Linked DNA regions of Homo sapiens: region 2 is linked to region 1. A link means that fine-mapping ties the variant in region 1 to the expression of a gene that starts in the linked region. Tissue or cell type: whole blood. Region 1 holds a variant in brackets; the other region holds the start of a gene. All regions are shown on one strand. Distances are between the middles of the regions.

The links. PIP is the estimated chance that this variant, and not a neighbour inherited with it, causes the effect.
Region 2: PCBP1 starts here. The variant in region 1 is fine-mapped to the expression of PCBP1 in whole blood (TOPMed, PIP above 0.99).

The regions. Positions count from the first base shown.
Region 1 is chr2:69,987,933-69,996,037 of GRCh38, forward strand. It overlaps PCBP1-AS1 (PCBP1 antisense RNA 1), which reads right to left. Exons shown (of 11, transcript NR_033872.1): 9 at 810-906. It also overlaps a transcript of ASPRV1 not described here. Among named protein-coding and RNA genes, the nearest start is that of ASPRV1, 30 kb to the left of the region's middle. RefSeq lists an enhancer at 5,235-5,734. The variant T/C (reference allele first, on the strand shown) is at 3,472.
Region 2 is chr2:70,083,263-70,091,367 of GRCh38, forward strand. PCBP1 (poly(rC) binding protein 1) reads left to right here and starts at 4,215. Exons shown (of 1, transcript NM_006196.4): 1 at 4,215-5,941. The coding sequence starts at 4,482. The coding sequence ends at 5,552. It overlaps PCBP1-AS1 (PCBP1 antisense RNA 1), which reads right to left and starts at 3,753. Exons shown (of 11, transcript NR_033872.1): 1 at 3,716-3,753; 2 at 2,285-2,362; 3 at 276-425. It also overlaps a transcript of ASPRV1 not described here. RefSeq lists enhancers at 2,812-2,951, 3,092-3,181, 3,222-3,431, 4,637-5,281, 5,353-5,519 and silencers at 3,642-3,791, 4,242-4,301, 6,328-6,377, 6,468-6,557.

The DNA of each region.
Region 1 (8,105 bases):
TATCAAGCACCTACAATGTGCCAGGCACTGCCCTAGTCTCCGGGGGTGCACCCGTGATGAAGAGGTTTAAAACCCCTGCCACAATGGGGAGAATGTGGAGAAACTGGAATCTGTGTGCATTGCCAGTGGGTATGTAAAGTAGTATACAGCCACTGTGGAAAATGATATGGTGGTTCCCCAAGAAGTTAAACATAGAATTACCATATGATGCAGCAATTCCACTTCTTTAGGTATAGACCCAAAAGAACTGAAAGCAGGGATTCAAACAGATATTTGCGCACCCATGTTCACAGCAGCATTATTGGTTTGCAATAGCTGAAAGGAAGAAACAACCCAAGCGCCCACGCATGGCTGAACAGATGAACATGTGGTACAGTTACACAATGGAATATTATTCAGCCGTAAAAAGCAATGAAGTTCTGACACATGCTACAACATGGATGAATCTTGAAAACATTATGCTAAGTGAAAGAACCAGACATAAAAGGACAAATACTCTATGATTCTACTTACATGAGGTGTCTAGAGTAGTCAAGTTCATAGAGACAGAAAGTACAGCGGTGGTTGCAGGAGCTGCAGGGAGGGAAATGTTTGGTGGGTAGTGGGAGTTAGTGTTTAGTGGGTAGAGAGTTTCAGTGTGGGAAGATGAAGAAGTTCTGAAGATGAATGGTGTTGATGGTTACATGATATTGTAAATATACTTAATGTCACTGAATTGTACACTCAAAAATCATTAAAATGGTCGATTTTATGTTATATATATTTTACCACAATTAGAAACAAACAAAAACCTTCCCCATGGAACTTACGTTCTTCTGAGTTGCCCCAGACGAGAGCTTATAACGAAGAGTAGTGTTAACTCTGCCACCTCAAAGCAGGGGTCAACATGGGGTTCTGCAGAAGAGTCTGGAGTAGGATGGGAGGGGTCAGGAAGCAAGAGGTCACACACAGGTTCCCCTCAATCTCTGTACCCAGAACGGCTCTCCTGTTACCAATTTTGAGTGTATTCTGATAAAATTTTATTTGACAAAAAGGCTGCCACCACTAAAGAACACTTTTTTTTTCCTAAACCACTGCCTTCCTTCTCTAAAACAACCACTGACCAGGAGATGCTTCCATGAAGAGTGAGCAGGCAGGGGCCACTTTGCAAGAATCTGCATGGGCAGGGGATAGGGCCCAGAGGGCAGGGCTCTCACAGCCCCGCCACACTTCTCCCGGGCTGGAGGGTCAGTTTTCAGATTTCTGGCTCCATCTCCTCCTGGAGGGCAGGGTTCTTGGCTGAGTCACCTCTGGTCTTGCCCAGGGTGGGGTATGGAAACGGCACCTGATTTTGGCATTGGAAACCTTGGCTCCAAGTCCTGGCTGGGCCTTTTATAAGACATTTAATGTCCCAGCCTATTTTCTTAGCTGTAAAATGAGAATGACCCTGACACCACCCATCTCCCAGGATCAGACACAACACCACAGCACAGCACAGGACAGTGCTTGGCACAGAGGGGTGCACGTACATGGGGGGCCTCAGAGTTCAGGCCTTAAGGCCCAGGAATGGGGGGCTGTGGGCCCCAGGTGTGCCCAGGAGGCCCTGGGGCGGGTCCCTGAGCCCTTGGACCTGCCCAGCCAGCCCTGCCAGTCCTGGCCAGTCCCGGCGCTCATTTGGGGCGTGGAGGGGGCACTAAGTGCACAGCCGCCCCCAGAGTAAACAGCCTGATGAGCACGGGAAAACAAGATGCTGAAATGCTTCTGAGCCACGTCATGGTTTCAGAGGCACTGGCCCGCCAACCCCAGGAGCCTTCCTGGGCCCCACCCAGGTGATGTGACCACACCCTGTGCTGCCCCTAACCCATCTCTGCATGTGACAATTCTGTGCTTTCTATGCTGGGCTGTGACTTCTTGAAGGCGGGGACCCACCCTACTGGTCTCTACTCCCCTGGCACATAGACAGGGTTCAGTAACTGCATGTTAAATCAGCGGTGATGATGATGATGGTGACAATGACAGTTGCAGCAGCTATCCAGCACATGGCCCTTGCCATGGGTGTGGCCACAGTGCTAAGAATCTTCATTTAACTCTTTTAACCCTCACGGAAATCCTCGCAGGTGTGTCCTGTTGCCATGATCCTCATTTTTAATGAAGGCACTGAGGCACAGAGAGCTTAAGTACCTTGCCAAAGGTCATACAAAGTGACAGAGGCAGGGCTTGAACCCCGGTGCCTTGGTTTGCCCTTTTTATTTTTGTTTGTTTATGTATTTTTATTTTATTTTATTTTTTTGAAACAGAGTCTCACTCTATTGTCCAGGTTGGAGTACAATGGCGAGATCTTGGCTCACTGCAACCTCCACCTCCTGGGTTCATGCGATTCTCATTCCTCAGCCTCCCGAGTAGCTGGGATTACAGGCCCCCGCCACCATGTCCGGCTAATATTTGTATTTATATTAGAGATAGGGTTTCAGCATGTTGGCCAGGCTGGTCTCGAACTCCTGACCTCAAATGATCCTCCCACCTCAGCCTCCCAAAGTGCTTGGATTACAGGCATGAGCCACTGTGCCCAGCCTGTTCATTTATGTAGACAGGGTCTCACTCTGCGGCCCAGGCTGGAGTGCAGTTGTGTGATCAGGGCTTACTGTAGCCTCGACATCTAGGGCTCATGTGATCCTCCCACCTGAGCCTCCTGCCACACTTCGCTAATTTTTTAAAAAATGTTTTGTGGAGATGAGGTCTTACTATGTTGCCCAGGCTGGTCTCTAAGTCCTGGACTCAAGCCATCTCCCTGCCTTGGCCTCCCAAAGTGCAGGGATTACAGGTGTGAGCCACCACACCTGGCCTCCCTTTTAACCACTCCTCCCAGCTGCCTGGACAAGGACACTTTCTCTCCTACTGACTCCTCATCCATGGTAATCATCAACTTCTTGGGAAGGGACATTAGGCGCCCTCGGGCCACCTTCATACGCAGCCTCTAAGATCCCTTCTGAGGTGTACCCTGGCAGAGAGGCCATCTTGAGACTGTGTAGACCCTCCTTTGGCAGGGAACTCCGCACCACACCGGCACTCATCTCAGATGGGACCCCAGCCAGCCTCCTCAAACGTGGCCTGCTGGACATAAAGAACGGTCCCTCTCTCATCTTTGGTGGCTTTTCAGCTATATAAATTCACCTCTCCTCTGGCTAACAGCCCCTGCATCGTCACCACTGCTCTGCCCCCACACCCCCTTCCTCTTGGTGACCTGCCTGGGGAATTCCTACTTGGCTGGGATCTGAGAGCTGCACCCCACACACGGGCAGTTGGCCCAAGAAGCGGGGATGGAGAAAGGCTGCGGCCCTCCCTGTGCTAGGTCCTTGCCTCCCATGTGTGGGGGCTCTCCTGATCTTCACACTCTTGGTCCATAAGGAACCCATGGAAAACCAGTCCCCTTGGGCCCCCACGCTCCTCCACTATGTATTTGAACGAATCATTTTAGTGAACCCAAATATAAAA[T/C]GTTACATTTTCCCTTGTAAAATGTCTTCTTTTTTCCACCCTGACAAGACTACTTTGAGTCATGACTTTGTTACCCCAAAGTCATTTATTGTTCCTCTGGGGGCTGGGTCACCTGCAGCCCAGAGAAGCCTCCCTTCAGGGGCTTTATTTGTTATTTTTTTGAGATGGAGTCTCACTCTCGTTGCCCAGGCTGGAGTGCAATGGCCCAATCTCGGCTCACCACAATCTTCGCCTCCCGGGTTCAAGCGATTCTCCTGCCTCAGTCTCCCGAGTAGCTGGGATTACAGGTATGCACCACCAGACCTGGCTAATTTTGTATTTTTAGTAGAGAGGGGTTTCACCATGTTGGCCAGGCTGGTCTTGAACTCCCGACCTCAGGCAATCCGCCCACCTCGGCCTCCCAAAGTGCTGGGATTACAGGCGTGAGCCACTGCGGGGCTTTATTTAAAAAAAGGAAAAGAGAAAAAACACATTGCTCAGCAAGTTTCTCTTCTCTGTCTTGAAATTTAGGACTAATAAATGGATTTGTCTCTGGTCATGCCACCTCTCTCCAGAAGTGCTGCTTTGGGGGCTCTGGCCAACCTGGATGACCACCCGTGGGGAACGTGACCACCTGTGGGGAATGTGACCACCTATGGGGAATGTGACAAGTGGGTCGTTTTCTAGGACAGAGTTGAGAGAGCTCTATTTTACATTTTCTCTTCTGTTAGGGGCTTCATTTCACTCTTAATGATCTTTGTTCCACTTTTTTTTTTTCTGCCAGTGTGAGGACTATTCTCAAGGGAAGTAGAATTGGAAACAAAATGGGAATTGTGCACTTTTTTGTTCTCTCTACTCGGCGTCTTCGCCTAGCCGAGGGGAGTCGCTGCCTTGTCCATCCTCTTGCTCCAAACAGACCAATAAGGAAGCAAACAAACAACTTTGGTGCTGACCAGGATTCCTTTACAATCGTTGCTAATTCTAGACTTCGGTCCTTCTGGACATTCTGACATACCCATGGTATATCACAGCCAAGGCATCAGGCAGTGTGAAAACCCAGCAGGTTCATTGAAAACCTACACTCATCTGTTCTCCTTGGCTGCTGCCCGCCCCCTTCCTCCCTGTTAAAATCATTTGCGATTTCATCATCAAAATCTAATTTCCACTAGGTGGAATGCTTATGCCTGGCAGGTTTTCCTCTACCCCTCACATTATTCTAATCCCACTGAAATAATAATTCCTTTAGGCAGCTTGTTTGAGACCACCATTTTGATCAAGCCCTACTCCATTCTCGCCTTGGGGACATGTCACAGAGTGGTTTGTCTAAAATCTTTTCCTAGAACTTTGATATTGTTATTTTAGGTTATTATTGTGATTTCATGTTATCCTCCCCCTTTGGGAGAAATGGTTTCATCATTTTGTAATTAAATTAGATTTGCAAAATGTCAACAATAGGATGTGCAATGCATTACACGTGCATTACGTAGTAATCTATTGTCAAGACAGAGACCTCCTGGTGAGGTGACAGAGCCCTGGGCCCCACTGCCTTCTACTAGACTGTTGCTTTCTCAGACGGTGAGGAATAAATCAACCTTATCTAAGAATCCTTGTCTAAGAAATACCTGGCTTTTCTTTGAGATCCCCTCACTGATTGAAGCACCCCTGCAGTCACTCAGGGTGATTCACAGAAGCAGATCTGGGGACCACGTGGCCAGGGAGTGGGGAGGAATCAGGCTACCAAAGAAACAGAGACCCGGCCCTGCCTCGGCAAGTGGGCTGCCCTGGCTCAGGCCACGTAGCGAAGAGGGCAGAATTTGTCCTCAAGCCCACACCTGCCTACCCCTCCGCCACTGCTCCACAAACTGCACCCCTAGCCCACATCTGAGTTGCTGTGTCCTGTCCCATGGCTACTTAGGCCATCCCACCAGGCCTGCCATCCCCAGGAAGTGTCCAGCTCAGAGTCCTCTCTCCACACCTGTCTCCAAGTGTCAGCAAGCTTTCAGACTGGAAAGGATTTATTCACAAACTCATGTGGGTGAACAAAGGAGTCCAACAGTAAGGGAGACATTTTCAGCTGTGAGGCCAACTAGGGCTGTGTGGAGAGGACTTGCCCCCTGAACCTGAGATCACAGTGACCTTGGTCTCCAAGGTCCTGTGAGAAGCACGGCTGGCCCAAGTCAGAGCCACTCAACAGCATCTTATTCATCCAGAGTCACTGAGGTTCCCATCAATTACATTTTCTGAAAATGAAACTTGAATTGCCAAAACACTATTTTAACCTTTGAAAATAAATCTTCCTAAAAGGTGGCCCATAGTCCCTAATGACTTAAAACCTCTCCTTTTCCCACTGAAGTGGTCATCATTATCCCTATGGAATGGGACAATAATGTGATTGTGTTTCCATGTGCTGTTTAATTACAACCTTCCTTACAGCCTTCACTTTCCTGTTATCTACAAGTCTCTCTCTAAAAACCACCTTCCACCAGCCACCCTTCCAGGCTGTTTGTTTTGCAGAGCGTTGGGAAATCAGACAGCACTCCTGTTAGGACAGTGTGCTCCACAGATGTCAGCGAAGCTTGAGGCCCACAGAGAAATAAGGCACTTGGTTCAGACGCAGGGATTTTGATTAAGCTATTTCTGAGGGTCTTCTTTCCAATACCTTCCAGTTCACGGCTAAAATCCAAAGGCAGATGGGGCCAAGACTCACTTGCACGTGGAATGCTCCTTGAATCTATTTCTCATGGTCCTCTGACTGGTAAGATGTTTCTGTCGTCGTGTCACTGTCAGGCAGGAGTTCCAGGGCTTGCTCTGCTTCTATTTGTTATGTGTGGCCCTGCTAGATGAGCAGCGTTGGTGAGACCCCTAGACCTGAGAGGTCCCATTAAGAGGGATGAGATCAAGAGAGGTGAGATGTGCAGCCTGTGTCCCTGGCCCTGACCTGGCATCCTTCTCTTACGTGTCTAGTGTGTTCTATAGACTTCAACCTCCTGACACAGCATCTGTGGCCATGGCCATTTTACAGCATGACCAACGGAGCAGTGAGAGTCTGGGAAAGAGCAGAGCCCCTCAGGGAGACCACTTGGATGAGCTCATCATGTGCTAGCTCTTCAAGGAACCCGGGGTGCAGCATGTGGGCGGTACAGTAACGGGCAGCCTGGGCTGTGTTTGGAGCTGCTCTGAGTTGGGAAGGGCTGGCTGTCACAGCTGGGGCAAAGATGCAGCCAGGATCTCACTCTATGTTGCTCACCTGGTGGGTTGTGACTTGCTACTGGGTCATGAAATCAATTTAGTGGGTCACAACCAGCCTTTCTCTTTAAAAAAATAAACAGAATAGGACAGGTGCAGTGGCTTATGCCTGTAATCCCAGCACTTTGGGAGGCCGAGGAGGGCGGATCATGAGGTCAGGAGATCAAGACCATCCTGGCTAACACGGTGAAACCCTGTCTCTATTAAAAATACAAAAAAAAAAATTAGCTGGGCGTGGTGGCAGGCACCTGTAGTCCCAGCTACTCAGGAGGCTGAGGCAGGAAAATGGCGTGAACCTGGAAGGCGGAGCTTGCAGTGAGCCGAGATCGCGCCGCTGCACTCCGGCCTGGGTGACAGAGCGAGACTCCGTCTCAAAAAATAAATAAATAAATTAATTAATTAATTAATTAAACAGAATAATATCCAAGCACATCACATGTAGTCAGGGTGAATATTGTTTTGACAAAACTTTTGCGGCCGGGTGCAGTGGCTCACACCTGTAATCCCAGCACTTTGGGAGGCCGAGGCAGGCAGATCACGAGGTCAGGAGATCGAGACCATCCTGGCTAACACAGTGAAACCCCGTCTGTACTAAAAATACAAAAAAAAAATTAGCCAGGCGTGGTGACGGGCACCTGTAGTCCCAGCTACTCGGGAGGCTGAGGCAGAAGAATGGTGCGAACCCGGGAGGCGGAGCTTGCAGTGAGCCAAGATCACGCCACTGCACTCCAGCCTGGGTGACAGAGCAAGACTCTGCCTCAAAAAAAAAAAAAAAAAACTTTTGCTTCAGTGCTATGTATCCATACATTGAGGTGTGTCCTGCTTGGGACAGGAGATATCTTTCTCACCATAAGCAGTGGTCGAAGAAGTCAGAAATACAGTGGTTACACTCACATCCATCCTGCAGTTGATCTTCCTAAGACCCATCCCTGCCACCTTACCCTCAGTTGGGAAGCCAAATGGAATTTGTTCAGGGCCCTAGAACTAGCCTCACCTGGAAGGGACAGAGGAGTCTGGGAAGCCTTCTTGGAGGAGGTGGGGCTTGCTGTGGTGGGAGCAGGAAGAGGGACACAGGGCAGAAGGGAGGGCAGGGGCAATTGTCCCAAGGTGGGAAGAGCAGGAAGAAGGAAGCCTGGAGAGGCCTGGGAGGGGCAGTACTAGACACCGCCTTCTCATGCAGGCAGAATGAGGGCTGAGGCCAGCGTTAGGGGGAGAAAGAAAGCCCATTTGGTTTCGATGTGGAAACAGCCAAGTAATCTTCTACTTGATGCCTGCTTTTGCAGATGGTTGGAATCATCCTTAGTTAAGAACCAAGGCCTCCTCCTCCTTTATTCCAAATCTCTTTGGGGAGCACTTGGTAGTGGAGCAGTCAGGTGGGGTATCAGCATAACATCCCTAGCTCTCACCAA
Region 2 (8,105 bases), 95 kb after region 1:
ATTCTAACAGGCTGTGTAACGTTGGGCAAGTCACTTCACTCCTCTAATCCAAAAATGGCTCTTCTGTAAAATGGGCATAAGACCCTACTGGCAAAGTTGTCTGTGATGATTAAACAAGTAACGTGAAAGCACTCTGAAAGGTTTTACGTGACATACCAACTTAACATAAGAGGAAGCAACAATCATTCCTCTGTATGTAGCATAAATCCTGTGGTTCAACTTCCAAAGTCTAAACCTGACTCACCTTCTTAGCCTTGTTAAACCCCTCAACCAACCTGTGGTCACTGAGAGGAGGCGAGTCATGTGTGAGGCTCCAGGCAGGGGTGGGGCAGTGACTACTCAGTCAATTGCTCCATGTCTCAGTGGTTTCATCTATAAAATGGGTGGTGTGGAATTCACTCAGGTATCCACAAGATAATGCAGGTCTGAGGAAGGGAGTGGAGATTTTACCAAAAGTGCAGAAAACATTTACATAAACCTCCCACCCCGCCAAAGAAAAATAACCAAAGTCATCAAATATCATCAGTCCCTGGACATAAGTAGAAGGACCCTTAGAGATCATTTAATCTCTTGCTTTATAAAAGGGAGAACTGAAACCCTGACAGATGAGTTGTAGAAGTCTCAGAGCTAGACAGGGGCAGAGCTAGGACTAGGGCCCAGAGCCTCAGATTCCAAGGTCCAATGACCTCTTTGCCAGACCACAGCATCACCCAAGGTGTCTGTATGACATGTTACCAACCCCAAGACACATTACAATTTAACCAACGTCCAAACGTGGGCTACCGAAGGGAGAAACTGTTAAGACTCTCGGGGAAGGAGGGAGGCTAAGAGCTGGGGAAGCTGGGAAAGGGAAGGCTTCACTGAGGAGGTGCACTAAGTCCCAGGAGTACATAACAGGAAATTATGGAAATATTTCAGTAGGTAGTCTTGGAAAGAAAGACCTGACAGATAAAATTTTCTCTAGAGAAAAGAAATAAGTTAGATTTAAAAGACCAGAAGAAGGCTTTGTTTGAACATTCCTTGATTATATGCAATTTAGTCCTTTTGTTGTCACCTGAGTTTCTAACACTTGGTAATATTTTTAATTCCCTCATCTATTCTGTCTCCCTATGAGACAGGACTCTCTGCAGAGACCACATCCAGTTTAGTGGTTAAGAATGGAGTCTCTGGACTCAGATTGCCTAAATTCAAATCCTTGCTTTACCACTTAATAGCTGTGTGACCTTGGATAAATTCCTTCACTAATCTGTACCTCTGTAAAACTGACCTAATATCACCACCCATTTCAGGAGGTTTTGTGAGGATTAAATGTGTATAAGCGGTCACAACTTATTAATGGGTTTTTAATCACTTTATAATGTGTCCTTTTTATATATAAAGAATAGAAATTACCCAAGTACATATACTGCATGTAGTAACAAATATTGTTTTGCAAAAATTTTGTTACATATGTGTGCATAAATGTCTTAAATCATAATGTAAAATTTGTTTCTTAGTGGTTTTTTTAAAAATGTGAGACACTGAATACATAAAATAAGGCTTAGAACAATGCCCAGCACACAGTAAGCACCTAGTGCTGTAACTGTCATCGTTGCTGTTATGTACCTATTAAATGTTCGTAGAGTTATATAAACTAACATGAAACCACTTTGGAAAATATATCTGATAGTAACATAAGTTAAAGGCAAAAAGCCCTTCTCTTTGTCTCTCATATCCACACACAATCAGAGCCCTGCTCAGGCACCAGTTTGTTGCTTGGCCCACTAGCTACGTGTTGCATTGAACTGAAGAGTCCACAGACTGACCTAACACTCTGTCATGCTCTGTCAATCTCTGCAGAGAAATGGAGGCTTGGTGCCAGAGCGAATTTATTTTTACCTGGTTGGGGTGCTGGGGTGGGGGAGGCAAGAGTCAAGCCCATGGGGAGCTGACGGAAGCAAGTCAGTCATACAAAAAACCATTTGCTCCCCCAGAGGCAGGTAGGCTCAAATGTGCCACAGACAGGGCCAGACCGACAGACACCTGAGCCTCTGGGCAGGCTGAATCACTTCCCCCTCCCTATCCTCACCAGACACTGCATAAGACAGCATTTCAGCCCGCCCGCCCGTTACAGGTGTAGCTCTTATCAGGAAAAGCTGGGAGCTGCCTGATACAAAAAGGGGCTGACTGCACAACAAAAGATTACCTGAAGGGCTCATTTAAATGACAAGCTCACCTAAACGTTTTAAATAGTATTTAAATTCCAAAACCCTGATTTACAGAAAAACCTGGAAAATGTGCTCACCAGTAAGGAAATCTGGAGGTCCATCCCCGACATTGTGTGACCTTGAATTAAGCACTTCATCTTTATGTTTGTCTTCCTCTGTTTAAAAGAGAGAGAGAGAGAGAGAGATAAGAACACCTACCTCAGAGGACCATGGTAAAAATTAAAGATAGAATACGGTGAACTGCCTTGCATCGGATGTGCTGGCACTGGCCAATGCACAATAAACGCCTGTCCCTTCTAGACTAAAAATGAACACTTAATTGTGGTAAACTATTAATAAGATTCACCGGCCAACTGTCCTATGAAAAAGTCAGAGGCACTGTAGTCTCTTCGTAGCTCTCGTTCTCTCCAGCACAACAGCCCATGCTAGGAAGTCTAGAAAAGCAGTAACTTATCTCATTCCTTAAATTAAACAGAGGTTTCTAAATGCTTTGGTACTGTGGGGACCCAAATTATCCCTTGATACTGCCCCCCTATTATCCACTATTAAGCTTTAAAAAGGCGAGAGATTAAATATTGTGCCCACATTTTACAGTCATTCGCGTTCCCGTTTCAAATTAAAGGGAGGAAAACGCGTTAAAATTAGGCCTCCGACCTTCAGACCAGCCTGTGGGCTTTTTTAAGTCATAAAACTCGCGGAGGTGGAAGGCCCCGGGGAGGAAGAGGGGTGCATTCTAGAGCTTTCGGGCCGACCCCAATTTCTCGTTGGCGACGAATGCTAACCACGTGTCGCCATTTTGTGTTCAGGAAACATGGCGGCCGCCCCAAGGGTAAGGAACAGGGGAGGCGGAGTAGCGCCACGTTAGCCGCTTTCCCTGAGAGATTGTGAAGCACGTTGCGCACGGGGCCCTTTCTGGTCTGGCTTAGCCCAAGGAGGAAGGGGAAAAGGCAGAAATCACAACTCATAGGCCAGCGTCTTGAGCGACACTTCCTCAGCGGGAAGAACCGGCAAAAAAGGCCTTCCAAGATGGCGGGCCCTGACGGGGCCGCCCCCCTTGAGCCTGGCGCAGTGGCTGCGCCCATGGGCCCGAAAAGCAGCCGCGGGAGCCCAGGCCGCGCGGGGAAAGCCGCAGAAACGTCCTGAAGCCCTGGCCGGCAGCCCCTGAACAAACGAGGCCTCCACAGGCGTACACTATTGTTTCTAATGTCGGAAAAGGGTGCCGCGGTGGAAACGACACAAGGGCAGGAGGTGGGGTTTCTGTGGCTTTAACCGAAAGAAACTTGCGAAACGCAAACAAAGCATTATGTAAATGGACGCCATTCTTTTTAGGACCACGTTTCTAGCACGCCCCACAAACAGCAGAGCCGCGATTCGGCAGGCGGCCGTGAGTGGGTTTCGGTCTTTCTGCCCACCGGCCGCCGCCGGGGAGCAGGAGCTGGGGTGGGGGATCCATGCAGGGCGCCCGGACGCCGGGGACGAAAGGGCCCCACGTGCCCGCCCGCGCGCACCCGCTCCGCAGGCCTCGCCTCGCCGCCCCTCCCCCCCGGAAGAGGGCTGCTGCCCCTCCCATCCCCCCACACCCTCGCGCACGCGCTCTGGTCACCTCACGCGCATGTTTTAAACCCGCGGCGTCCCGGCTTGTGCCTGCAGTTTCCGCCGGGGCTGCCCATGTCGTTCCGCGCACGAGCCCCTCATGTAGGGCAGGAAAATAATGTCTATCCCGCATACACAGCACTAGTATTTTCAGTCACCCGCCAGTGCCGTTAGAGTTAATAAAATACGTCATCATTTTAAAACTTTGCCGGACTCACAGCTTCCGCCCATCGTGCGCTTCATTTTCACTACTGCAGTGTCAGAAGGTTTTTTTTTTAAGGACCATGTAAGGGTTGGCGCAATCTTGTGACCTAAAAAAGACGGGTCCTCATTTTTTTTCAAGGGGTCCTGCGCAGCAAGCACTTCCGGGGTCAGAGGGTACGCGGGGTTGAAAGCGGGCTTCCCGCCCCGCCCAGACCGCCGAGGCTGCCGCCGGAGTCGCCACCGCCGCGCCCTCGCCCACCCGCCCGCCCGCCGCTCCCGGCCCCGCTCGCCCCCTCCGCCGCCGCCGCCCGCCCCTGCGACTACGCTGCGGCCTCCCGCCCGCTCCCGCTCGCTCCCGCGGCCCTCGCTCGCCTCGCGCCGGCAGTTTTGGGCCTACACCTCCCCTCCCCCCGCCAGCCGCCAAAGACTTGACCACGTAACGAGCCCAACTCCCCCGAACGCCGCCCGCCGCTCGCCATGGATGCCGGTGTGACTGAAAGTGGACTAAATGTGACTCTCACCATTCGGCTTCTTATGCACGGAAAGGAAGTAGGAAGCATCATTGGGAAGAAAGGGGAGTCGGTTAAGAGGATCCGCGAGGAGAGTGGCGCGCGGATCAACATCTCGGAGGGGAATTGTCCGGAGAGAATCATCACTCTGACCGGCCCCACCAATGCCATCTTTAAGGCTTTCGCTATGATCATCGACAAGCTGGAGGAAGATATCAACAGCTCCATGACCAACAGTACCGCGGCCAGCAGGCCCCCGGTCACCCTGAGGCTGGTGGTGCCGGCCACCCAGTGCGGCTCCCTGATTGGGAAAGGCGGGTGTAAGATCAAAGAGATCCGCGAGAGTACGGGGGCGCAGGTCCAGGTGGCGGGGGATATGCTGCCCAACTCCACCGAGCGGGCCATCACCATCGCTGGCGTGCCGCAGTCTGTCACCGAGTGTGTCAAGCAGATTTGCCTGGTCATGCTGGAGACGCTCTCCCAGTCTCCGCAAGGGAGAGTCATGACCATTCCGTACCAGCCCATGCCGGCCAGCTCCCCAGTCATCTGCGCGGGCGGCCAAGATCGGTGCAGCGACGCTGCGGGCTACCCCCATGCCACCCATGACCTGGAGGGACCACCTCTAGATGCCTACTCGATTCAAGGACAACACACCATTTCTCCGCTCGATCTGGCCAAGCTGAACCAGGTGGCAAGACAACAGTCTCACTTTGCCATGATGCACGGCGGGACCGGATTCGCCGGAATTGACTCCAGCTCTCCAGAGGTGAAAGGCTATTGGGCAAGTTTGGATGCATCTACTCAAACCACCCATGAACTCACCATTCCAAATAACTTAATTGGCTGCATAATCGGGCGCCAAGGCGCCAACATTAATGAGATCCGCCAGATGTCCGGGGCCCAGATCAAAATTGCCAACCCAGTGGAAGGCTCCTCTGGTAGGCAGGTTACTATCACTGGCTCTGCTGCCAGTATTAGTCTGGCCCAGTATCTAATCAATGCCAGGCTTTCCTCTGAGAAGGGCATGGGGTGCAGCTAGAACAGTGTAGGTTCCCTCAATAACCCCTTTCTGCTGTTCTCCCATGATCCAACTGTGTAATTTCTGGTCAGTGATTCCAGGTTTTAAATAATTTGTAAGTGTTCAGTTTCTACACAACTTTATCATCCGCTAAGAATTTAAAAATCACATTCTCTGTTCAGCTGTTAATGCTGGGATCCATATTTAGTTTTATAAGCTTTTCCCTGTTTTTAGTTTTGTTTTGGGTTTTTTGGCTCATGAATTTTATTTCTGTTTGTCGATAAGAAATGTAAGAGTGGAATGTTAATAAATTTCAGTTTAGTTCTGTAATGTCAAGAATTTAAGAATTAAAAAACGGATTGGTTAAAAAATGCTTCATATTTGAAAAAGCTGGGAATTGCTGTCTTAAACTCTTTGTTGGTGCCTTTTTTTTCCCTCCCCTTTTAGCCTGAGGTGTTTGGAGGGAGGAGGGAGAAGGGTGGGCCCGTCCTTGGTATTCTCTCAAGCTCTTCTCACCTTATCGGTAAGATTCCATTCCCTCTGTGCCCCAACAAAGGAACATGGCAGGCTGGGCCTGCTTTGGGATGTTTCCAGGGACAGAGAGGTTCAAGTTCCAGAGAGAGGCCTCTGCCCATTTCTCTGGTAGAAACAAGGTTTTCTCGAGGGGAAAAGGTGTGCCCACTCAGTAGGACCTCTAAATGGCAGAGCGTCCTCTCCATCTAACCAGTTCCCCCACCCCCACCTCACAGGATAAACTTAGGAACAAAAAAATATTCTGGGGTGGGAGGAGCCTGGGGAAGGGGTGTGGGGGCAGGGAAAGGAAAGGAAGGGAGGGCAGTGGGCCGGGGAGGATTGGGGGCTTGGAGGAGGGCAACAGCTGCCGGGTGGTGGTGGGACTAGAGGGGTCTTGGTTGGGCAGCAGGGGTGGGAAGGGGGGAGGGGACGGTACCAACGAGACGCACGTGTCAAGCATGCACCTGTGGCAAGCAGCCTGTCAGAGGATGTTATTACACCTGCCAAGTGGTGTATCCAGAAACAAAAGAGGCCCAGTTTCCAATTCTTCAGCTGTGTGCAATGTTTAGAGAATCCCTATACCAGGAAATAATCCTGCCTAAATGGGTCAGTCTTCACAAGGCGGGAATGTAGACTGATGCACTGACTATAACCTAAGAATGATCTGAGTGTTAAAGATGCAGATTCCTCTGTCCCACCCCAAAACTAATCAGCTGTATTTTTAACAAACACCCCAAAGGAGTCTTAGATTTGAATGCCACTGATTGTCTTCAGTGGAGGAGGAAGATCCCGCTGTGAAGGCCGTAGCACCCTCACGCCCACGTCAGCCAATAGGACTATCCCTGACCTGATGAGAGAAGGAAAACTGCTAGGCAAAGGCAACATTAGAAACAATAGTATGAGAAAATAGAGCCTGAGATGAGGGAAAGAAGAAACAATAGTATCAGACAATAGACCAGTAGGTGCCAAAGTGGGTAGTTCAAACCCCAGGCACTATGGGAGATCACTCATGGCAAAGAGAAGTTCCTGTGGGAGGGGAGTATTATCCACAGTAAATATTCGTTGAGGCTTATTATGTGGTCACGCAGGGTTAGGCAAGCAGTCACTGAAAGGAGCCCAAATTCTGGAGTTAGACTTGCTTTCAAATTTGAGTTCTGCCTCCTATTCATGGCTTTGGACAAATTAATCTCTATAAATGAAGATGTTAAAATTAACACCTTCTGGGCTTGTGAAAATAAAATGAAAGCATGTATATAAAACAGAACAGTGCTTAGAACACAGTAAATTTCAGTGTACTCGATTATAAAAAGCCAAAAGGCCCATTTCTGGGGGCTGAGGGTTGGCCACAAAATCTGGGCAGAGAAGACAGATGATTAAAAGGTAGGAAACAAAGCAATGTGTATTAAATGAGTTGGACTGAGAGGCCAAGACAGGTGGGGAGGGAGGGGGACCTAGTGAAGACCCAGAAGTGGGTACCATGCCTTCTGGGAACAATAAGCACAAATCCAAATCAAGGCAAGAGGGGATATAAGCTTGAACCCTCAAACACCAAGCCAAATAGTCTTTGAAGAATCCCTGAAATGCTGGGTGAAGCAGTTTGAATGCCCTATGAAAAGCAGGTCTTAATACCAAAAATTAGGCCAGGTGCAGTGGCTCATGCCTGTAATACCAACACTGGGAGGCCGAGGTGGGCAGATCACTTGAGCTCAGGAGTTTGAGACCAACCTGGGCAACATGGTGAAACCTCGTCTCTACAAAAAAAAAAAAAAAAGAAAAAAAAATTAGACAAGTGTGGTGGTGTGCACCTGTAGTTCCAGCTACTTGGGAGGCTAAAGTGGGAGGATTGCCCTGCACCTGGGAGGTCGAGGCTGCAGTGGCCTGTGATCATACCAATGCACTCAGCCTGAGCGACAGAGCAAGACCCTGTCTCAAAAAAGAAAAAAGAAAGAAAAGTAGGCCTCAGACTTTCCTGAACCTCCTCCCCACTGCATCTTATACTGGGCAAAGCTGGCAATAATTTGTAAAATAATGATTTAGGCAGCAAGGCATAGGACGAATTGC